Regions from separate parts of the Homo sapiens genome. Here region 1 is linked to region 2. Evidence: fine-mapped expression QTL. A gene starts in region 2. The other region holds a variant in brackets. All regions are shown on one strand. Distances are from middle to middle.

Region 1 (4,389 bases), 42 kb after region 2:
GAGGGACGCTGTCAAAAAAGGGAAGACAGGAGATGACAGCATGTGAAAACTGCCTAGGCAAAGCCTGGAAAGGAAAAACCGCAGGAGACTGATGGGAGATGAAGCTGGAGAGGGTTAGAGTTTCTCACTGCAGACTGAGCATTTTTGAGACGGGGTCTCGCTCTGTCACCCAGGCTGGAGTGCAGTGGTGCGATCTCAGCCTCCTGGGTTCAAGCACTTCTCTTACCTCAGCCTCCTGAGTAGTTGGGACTACAGGCACATGCTACCACGCCCAGCTAATTTTTTGTATTTTTAGTAGAGACAGGGTTTCACTGTGTTAGCCAGGATGGTCTCGATCTCCTGACCTCGTGATCCGCCCTCCTCGGCCTCCCAAAGTGCTGGGATTACAGGTGTCAGCCACTGCGCCTGGCAGGGGAGGTTCTTTACTGTTCTCCAGGCTTGAGCTCTCTTGTCTCCAGCGAACCAGCTCTTCAGCTGTGTCTCCTGCCCTGTCTCTGCAATCTAGCCAAGAATGAATCCTGATTCCGCAGCGTGGCCGAAGGTTGGTGGCTGTATATCTGGCCCACAATGTCCTTTATCCCCAAAGCTCCATTCAAGCATGTCTGTCTGTCTATCCTTTTATCTCTTTTCTCTCTCAGCATTTTGTAAAATTTGCTCAACTTTAGCATATAGCTGGATGCCTTGACTCACAGTGAATCCCTCAGGTTTTTTTTGAGGCAGGGTATCATTATATTATCCATGCTGAAGTGCAGTGGTTATTCACAGACGTGACCATAGTGCACCACACCCTTGAACTCCAGGGATCAAGCCATCCTCTTGCCTCAGCCTCCCGAGTAGCTGGGAACACAGGCTCATACCACTGAGTCTGGCTACCAATAATTTTTATTTTAACAATCTGTAGGTCAAACCTGAAAAACCGCCTCTAAATAACTTATAATTTTGATATATTTACGTTTCGATCCTTATGATGTTTGCATTTTGTTTCTGTATTCCAGGGTTGCAAGCATATTCTACTTTTCCCAATATGTTTATAGTTTGAGGTTTTAAAAACATTTTTATGAACAATATAAAGATATACTATTTTCCAAATATGTTAAGTAATTTTTTCAGCAATGTTTATTGAATCAATCATCTTTTCATTCCCCAGTGATTTAAAATGACATCAACGTAAGATATATCTGTATATATCTGTTAGGGTAAAATTCATTTGTGTGATCGAGGAAGCAGAACCCTCAAGGAGCGATGTAACATAATTACAGCAGGGCACAGTGGCTCACGCCTGTAATCACAGCACTTTGGGAGGCTGAGGTGGGTGGATCCCTTGAGATCAGGAGTTCAAGATCAGCCTGGCCAACATAGTGAAACCCCGTCGCTACTAAAAATACAGAAATTAGCTGGCATGGTGGCACATGCCTGTAATCCCAGCTACTCGGGAGACAGAGGCAGGAGAATCGCTTGAACCCAGGAGGTAGAGGTTGCAGTGATTGTGCCACTGCACTCCAGCCTGGGTGACAGAGCAAGACACTGTTTCAAAAAAAAAAAAAAGAATTAGGCCAGGCTCAGTGGCTCACGCCTGTAATCCCAGCAATTTGGGAGGCGGAGGCAGGAGGATCAGTTGAGCCTCGGAGATAGAGGCTGCAGTGAGCCGTGATGGCAACACTGAAATCCAGCCTGGATAATGGAGTGAGGCCCTGTCTCCAAAATAAATAAAATTAAATTAATAAAGTAAGTATAGGGATTGGATTTTCCGTGACTATGGGAGCAAGCCCAGGGAGCTGCCTCCAGTTGACTTCTGCACCTACGTTGGCTGAAGCTGGTTGTAGCAAGGAGCGCTAATAGGAAAAAATTATGTGTGAAGCAGGGAGTGTGAGAAGATGGAGCCACATCTGTCTCTCACTGCCTACAGCCTCAATATCAAACAGAATAAGCTGCTGCCTGCTACCTCAACTCTGCACACGCCTGGCTCAGACTCTGAGCAGCCAATGGAGGAGACATGGTGGGAGCTGAGGGAGCCGAGGGCCTGGCTACTGCCCAAAGCGGGCAGCACAGTGAGCTACGATGGGGACTCATCCCCACTCCCCACGCTGACCCCAGAGCTGCATGGCTGATGCTTCACTTAAACCTTCTGATCTTGCACAAACTTCTCTTAAGGCCAGTCATCATAACATGGAAGGGAATTCTGAAAAGATATTCCAGGCCAATTCTCATCAAAACCAAGCTGGGGCCAGGTGCAGTGGCTCATATTATTTTATAAATAATAAAAAAGTATTAAAATTTGTTCGCTGGGCGCGGTGGCTCATGCCTGTAATCCCAGCACTTTGGG[A/T]GGCTGAGGTGGGCGGATCACAAGGTCAGGAGATGGAGACCATCCTGGCTAACATGGTGAAACCCCGTCTCTACTAAAAATACAAAAAATTAGCCGGGCGTGGTGGCGGGCGCCTGTAGTCCCAACTACTCAGGAGGCTGAGGCAGGAGAACGGGGTGAACCCAGGAGGTGGAGCTTGCAGTGAGCCGAGATCGCACCACTGCACTCCAGCCTGGGCAACAGGGCGAGAGTCTGTCTAAAAAACAAAACAAACAAACAAAAAAATTGTTATAGAGTTGTTACATCTCCCACTATGATTATAGGGGTTACTTTGTCAATTTTTATTTGTAATGTGCCCATTTTTTCTTTATATCTTTGAGGTTATGATGTTAGGTGCATACAAACTCATGATTCTTAGGTCTTCTTCTCAAAAAAAAAAAAAGAAGGAAGGAAAGAAGGGGAGGGAAGGGGAAGGGGAAGGAAGGTTAGGTTCAAGCTATATTTATCCCACGATTGAAACCAAATACTTTAGGAATGTGTGTGCCTAGGCTTTGCGCATTGGTAATTTGATTCTGAGCTGACATCTACTGAAATAAACATTCCTTCCTCACCCATAAAGGCCAGGATTTTTTTCAACACTTAAAACATCTGATTGAAAAAAGACAATGGAACCCCAGAATGAGGAAAGTATCAATATAAAATATATCAGTGAATGTTTTCAACAATGTAACAATTAGCTTAACAATTGACATGCAGTATAAACAAGTAGTAATTTTAGTGTAAAAAGGTTATGAAAATATGCAGAAAATACACGTCTAAAGTCAAGAAGCAAAAGATATTTTAAGGCCAGGCACTGTGGCTCATACTTGTAATCCCAGCACTTTGGGAGGCCAAGGCGGGTGGATCACCTGAGGTCATGGTGAAACCCTGTCTCTACTAAAAATACAAAAATTAGCCAGGCGTGGTGGCACATGACCGTAATCCCAGCTACTCCAGAGGCTGAGGCAGGAGAATCACTTGAACCCCAGGAGGTGGAGGTTACAGTGAGCTGAGGTCACACCACTGCACTCCAGTCTAGGCGACAGAGTGAGACTCCATCTAAAAAAAAAAAAAAAAAGACATTTTAGTTTTACTTTCTGGTATTTAAGATAAATTATGTGGAAAAAGTGAAATTACTGATGTTCAAACCATTTTTGAGGGGCAATTTTAATAGATCTGCCACTTTCTTGACCATTCCTTTCTTCTTTTTAAATTGAGATTTAATTCACATGCCATAAAATTGACCATTTTATTTTATTTTGAGATAGGGTCTCATTCTGTTACCCAGGCTGGAGTGCAATGGTGCGATCTCAGCTCACTGCAGCCTCGACCTCTCTGGCTCAAGCGATCCTCCTGCCTCAGTCTCCTGAGTAGCTGGGACCACAGGCGCACACCACCACACCCACTCTGTTTTTAGTAGAGATGAGGTCTCCCTATGTTGCCCAGGATAGTCTCAAACTCCTGATCTCAAGTGATCCTCCTACCTCAAGCCTTTCAAAGTGCTGGGATTACAGGCATGGGCCACTGAGCCCGGCCAGAAAATTGACCATTTTAAAGTGTACAATTCCGTGGCTTTTGGTCTGTTCACAAAGTTGTGCATTGATAATCATTAATTCCAAAAATGTTTCATCACCCCCAAAAAGAAAACTAGTGCCCTAGTAGCAGTCACTCCCCCAAGCCCCTGGCAACCAACCAGTAGTCCACCTTCTGTCTCTGAATTTGCCCGTTCCAGACATTTCACATAAATGAACTCATGTAGCCTCTCGTGTGTGGCTTCTCTCACTTGGCATCATGTTTCAAGGTTCATGCCCGTCGTAGCATGTATTGTATTTCCATTGCAGGGATAGACCACGTTTCATTTAATTGTTAATCATTTAAATGATTAAATGGACATCTGTATCACTTCATATTTGTTTCACTATCATAAATAATTCAAAAATCCGTGTGGCTAAATCCCTGTCACTTGTGGACAGTCCAAAGCAGTCAAATTGCCATGAAACCACCAAGTTGAAGGGATCAACAGGACCCCTGCCCACCGCGTGGGTGCC
Region 2 (4,389 bases):
GCTGCTCTGCTCCTGCCCCGTCAGGGCTGGGGTGTCACGGGGAGCCCCCTTCCTGACTCTGCCATCCAGCACCACGGACAGGGCTTTGGTGGTTCTTTGGGAATAGGTATCAACCAGGGGTGGGCGGACGTTTTGTGTGAAGGGCCAGATGGTACAATTTTAGGTTCAGGGGCTGCAGGTCTCTGTCACAGCCATGTGAGCTTCTGTGCAAGCATGAAGACAGCCACAGGCCACATGCCAATGAGCGCACGGCGGCTGTGGGCCAGTGACGCTTGACTTAATGAACTGGAGCATGGGAATTTCAAAGAATTTTCATGGACCACAAGACATCGTTCTTTTGAATGTTTCCTAAGAATATTAACATGTAGGAAGCATTCTTTGCTCATGGGCGAGGCAGAAACAGGAGGTGGTTGGCTGGGCCATAGTTCGCCACCCCTGGCGCAGGCACCTGGTTCAAGTCGTGAAAGTCCTGCTCCTCCCGCAGCCCCTGCCCACCCTCATCCCGATGAGACCGGCGTCCCCGTTCCTGGTGAGCCAGCACTTCCAGAGCCAGTCTGTGCATGCACAAAGCCCTTCTTTGCACCCATCTTCCTGGGAAGCATGTGGGGTCCACACACACTGGTCTTCCAGCCTGTTTCCCTGGGGGATGGGTGTGCAGTGGGAGTGTCCCCCACCCTCTCCACCCAAGTTTTCCACAGCCAGGGATCCACCACCCGGGCTCTCGGCATCTCCAGGTGGATGCGCCCGTGATTTCTCAGCTTTTGCTCTTTCCAAAAATTAGCGTTGTACACTCTCCCCCAAGGCATAAAGTCTAAGGCTCAGGGCAACCAGCCCTGGGGGCCTCCCCTCCAGGGAGGCCCTCACAGCACCCTCAGGGGGAGGTTCTGTTGTTATCCGCAGAACAGAGGCCCAGAGAGGTGAAGCAAGAGCCCGCAGATCCCAGCCCCGCTACGTCAGGAAGCCCGGCTGGACCCACGTCTGGCTCCAGGGTCCTGTGTTGGTGATCACAGCCCTGTGGCTGTTCCCAGCGGTCACAGGCCCTGAGGAGCTTCAGTCCCTGGAACACACACAAGAGGTGTCCTGAGGACACGCATGGAACTGCGCTTGAGCTGCAATCTGTCCCCTAGTTCCCGCCTCGCTTGGGCATCTGACGGCCTTTATCTCTTCTCCCCTGATCCTTATCCGACACCCCAACTCTTCTGCAGACTCCAGTTCCTTCCCAGTGCCCTGGGTCCTTCAGGGTCCTTGGGATGAGACATCTCCGAACACGAGCTTTTCTCAGCTGGCGTCTGAGGGTGATGGCGTTCTGCCCACAGGCATCCGCCTGCACAGGCCTCCCTGACAAGAGGGGCTGAGGGGGAAAGGAGTGAGACAGAAAACCAGCAGGGCCCCGGGGACCGAGCCCTGGAGAAGCGCCAGTTCCCGCCCAGATGAGGGCCGACACCTCGGAAGGACCGGCCTGGGGGGTCGCCCTCCCCAGGCCCTCTGCCTCCCATCGTGGCATGGACTGCACCTTTGGTGTCCTTCCCTCCCATGGCCTCTGAGTCCCTGAACACTGGCTCATACCTGCTCCACCCAGATACAGCACAGAGGAGAGACCCGGGCAGCCTCTAAGGGCAGTGCCTTGAGGGCCAGTGCCTGGTGCACCTGCCGCACAGGGCACAGGACACAAAGGGCTGGGTGATCCATTCAGGCTCTCTCAGGGCCCGCGTCGAGCTCGGCCTGGGTCCCAGGAAGGCTGCCAGGCACCAGGTGCTGCCTGAGTCCGAAGGAGGCCCTGACTCCAGGTCGCCCACGGCAGGAGTGGGCCCCACGGAGCTTCTGTGGACCCTTGACCCGCCACCCTCAGGTGGAAGCCATCAGGCTGCGCTGGATAAGCCAGCCTCTCCCCACCTCTGCCATTCAAGTCGGTGCCAGTGCTGACTGGAGAGATCCCAGAGATAACTGTGAAATGCCTGTCACTGTTCTCAGCTTCGTTTATGTAGGCTGCAGAGCCAAGACAGCAAATACTGCACATCCGGGAGCCTCCCCAAGGCCGGCCCTGGGCCTTCCCCCAGGAAGAGCCCCACGGCCAGCTCCTTCCTGTTCCCCTGGCGGCCCCTCGCTTCTTCCTTCTGGATGGGGGCCCAGGGGGCCCAGGAGAGTATAAAGGCGATGTGGAGGGTGCCCGGCACAACCAGACGCCCAGTCACAGGCGAGGTAAGGTGCTTGGCTCCATGGGTGGGGCCCGGCAAGGTCACACTGGCCCTTGCTTTGGAGTCAGGAGGCCTCTCTTCTTCCCACAGAGCCCTGGGATGCACCGGCCAGAGGCCATGCTGCTGCTGCTCACGCTTGCCCTCCTGGGGGGCCCCACCTGGGCAGGGAGTAAGTCAGTGGGGTCTGCCCTCAATCTCCCCTGCCTCCCTCCAGGAGAGCCAGGGACTCACCCGGCCCTTGTCCCAGACTAACTCTGGTCACAGAACCATCCTGTCTGCCTGGAGGGGTGGGGTCCCCTGTTCTGGCAGAGGTCACCCCCATATCACCGCATGGGGATTTTCTTCCCTTTGGGTCTCTCTTTTCTTCAGAGATGTATGGCCCTGGAGGAGGCAAGTATTTCAGCACCACTGAAGACTACGACCATGAAATCACAGGGCTGCGGGTGTCTGTAGGTCTTCTCCTGGTGAAAAGGTGAGTAGGGCTATGGTCATGGGCCCAGCGCCATGTCCCCTCCCATCCCACAGTTTCAGGAACTCAGGGCAGGGGGTAAGCACCCGTGGCCACTTTTGCCACACATGCCTGGCTACTGTCGATGCTTCCTGGCTCCCGCTGATGCTTCCTGGCTGGAGCGGAGACGGTCAGACCGTCCTCCCTACCTTCTCCCTTCAACCCAAGCTCAACTCAACCAAAAATGGCCCCTCTGTCCCCATGCCTGATAGGAAAGTCAGGGGAAAGTCTGTCCGATTACTGTCAAAGAAGACAGGAGGTAAGGGTCAGAGTGGACCACTGACTGAATATGAGTCGCAGAAGTGTTAGAGGCAGAAGTCCAGGGCCATTTCCTTAATATCGAAGTGTCTCTGCTGGAGGTCTGGGATGGATTTTTGCCCTGCATTTAGAAGTTCTGGGGTCCTGGGAGAGGGGAGAGAAGCCCAATAGCAGAGGAGACAGAGTGTGGGCGGGGCGAGCCGGAGGGGTGCATCCTGGGAGAGCACCAGGGTGAGGGAGGGGTGAAGATGAGCCCCGTCAGGGAAGCGCTGGCGAGTGTGGGAAGTCACCTGCCCCTCGGCCTGTGAGCTGCTCTGCTTGGAGTGACTAAGGCTCGGGAGGTCCAGGCTCGGCCAGAGGCAGCTCATATGTGGGCCACAGTGACGGCAGCTGGTGCCTTCTGGGTCACGGAGACCTGGCGCTGCACGCAGCTCTCCTCACCAGGATCTCAGTGACTCCTCCCAAAAGTCACACCCACTTTGCAGACGGGGAAACTGAGTCCGGAGAGGCTGGGTAACGAGCTCAAGATCACAGGGCCCAAAAGTGGTAGAATCAGGGTTGGTGACCAGTGAGTCTGTGTCAGGGACCCAAAGTCTGATGGTGCTGGACTCTCTGCATCCCGGGAAGGAGGATGGGGGCGCTGAGGACCCGGGATGTGCTGGGCCATCCCAGATCTGGACGTCCAAAGCTTTGCCTCTCTCCCAGTGTCCAGGTGAAACTTGGAGACTCCTGGGACGTGAAACTGGGAGCCTTAGGTGGGAATACCCAGGAAGTCACCCTGCAGCCAGGCGAATACATCACAAAAGTCTTTGTCGCCTTCCAAGCTTTCCTCCGGGGTATGGTCATGTACACCAGCAAGGACCGCTATTTCTATTTTGGGAAGCTTGATGGCCAGATCTCCTCTGCCTACCCCAGCCAAGAGGGGCAGGTGCTGGTGGGCATCTATGGCCAGTATCAACTCCTTGGCATCAAGAGCATTGGCTTTGAATGGAATTATCCACTAGAGGAGCCGACCACTGAGCCACCAGTTAATCTCACATACTCAGCAAACTCACCCGTGGGTCGCTAGGGTGGGGTATGGGGCCATCCGAGCTGAGGCCATCTGGGTGGTGGTGGCTGATGGTACTGGAGTAACTGAGTCGGGACGCTGAATCTGAATCCACCAATAAATAAAGGTTCTGCAGAATCAGTGCATCCAGGATTGGTCCTTGGATCTGGGGTACAACCAAAGCCTTCCCTGCTCCTTGGAGACAAAGTCCCCAGTGCTGCAGCCCAGTGAACTGAGATGAGGGGTAGGGCAAAGGTGACTCTGCCGAGGACAGAAAGAGAGCAGCACCACCCCCTCAGAGGTGCTGTGGATCTCTGTGCCAGTCCCACAATCTTTGAAGAGTCAGGCTTCAAGGCCGCCACTCCCCACTGTCCCTCACC

What was found. PIP is the estimated chance that this variant, and not a neighbour inherited with it, causes the effect.
Region 1: its variant is the best candidate, but not a certain one, in a credible set for the expression of ZG16B in monocytes after LPS (Fairfax 2014, PIP 0.53).

What each region holds. Positions count from the first base shown.
Region 1 is chr16:2,870,108-2,874,496 of GRCh38, forward strand. No RefSeq gene overlaps it. Among named protein-coding and RNA genes, the nearest start is that of FLYWCH2, 11 kb to the right of the region's middle. The variant A/T (reference allele first, on the strand shown) is at 2,324.
Region 2 is chr16:2,828,130-2,832,518 of GRCh38, forward strand. ZG16B (zymogen granule protein 16B) reads left to right here and starts at 2,174. Exons shown (of 4, transcript NM_145252.3): 1 at 2,174-2,199; 2 at 2,286-2,364; 3 at 2,565-2,667; 4 at 3,667-4,147. The coding sequence starts at 2,313. The coding sequence ends at 4,030.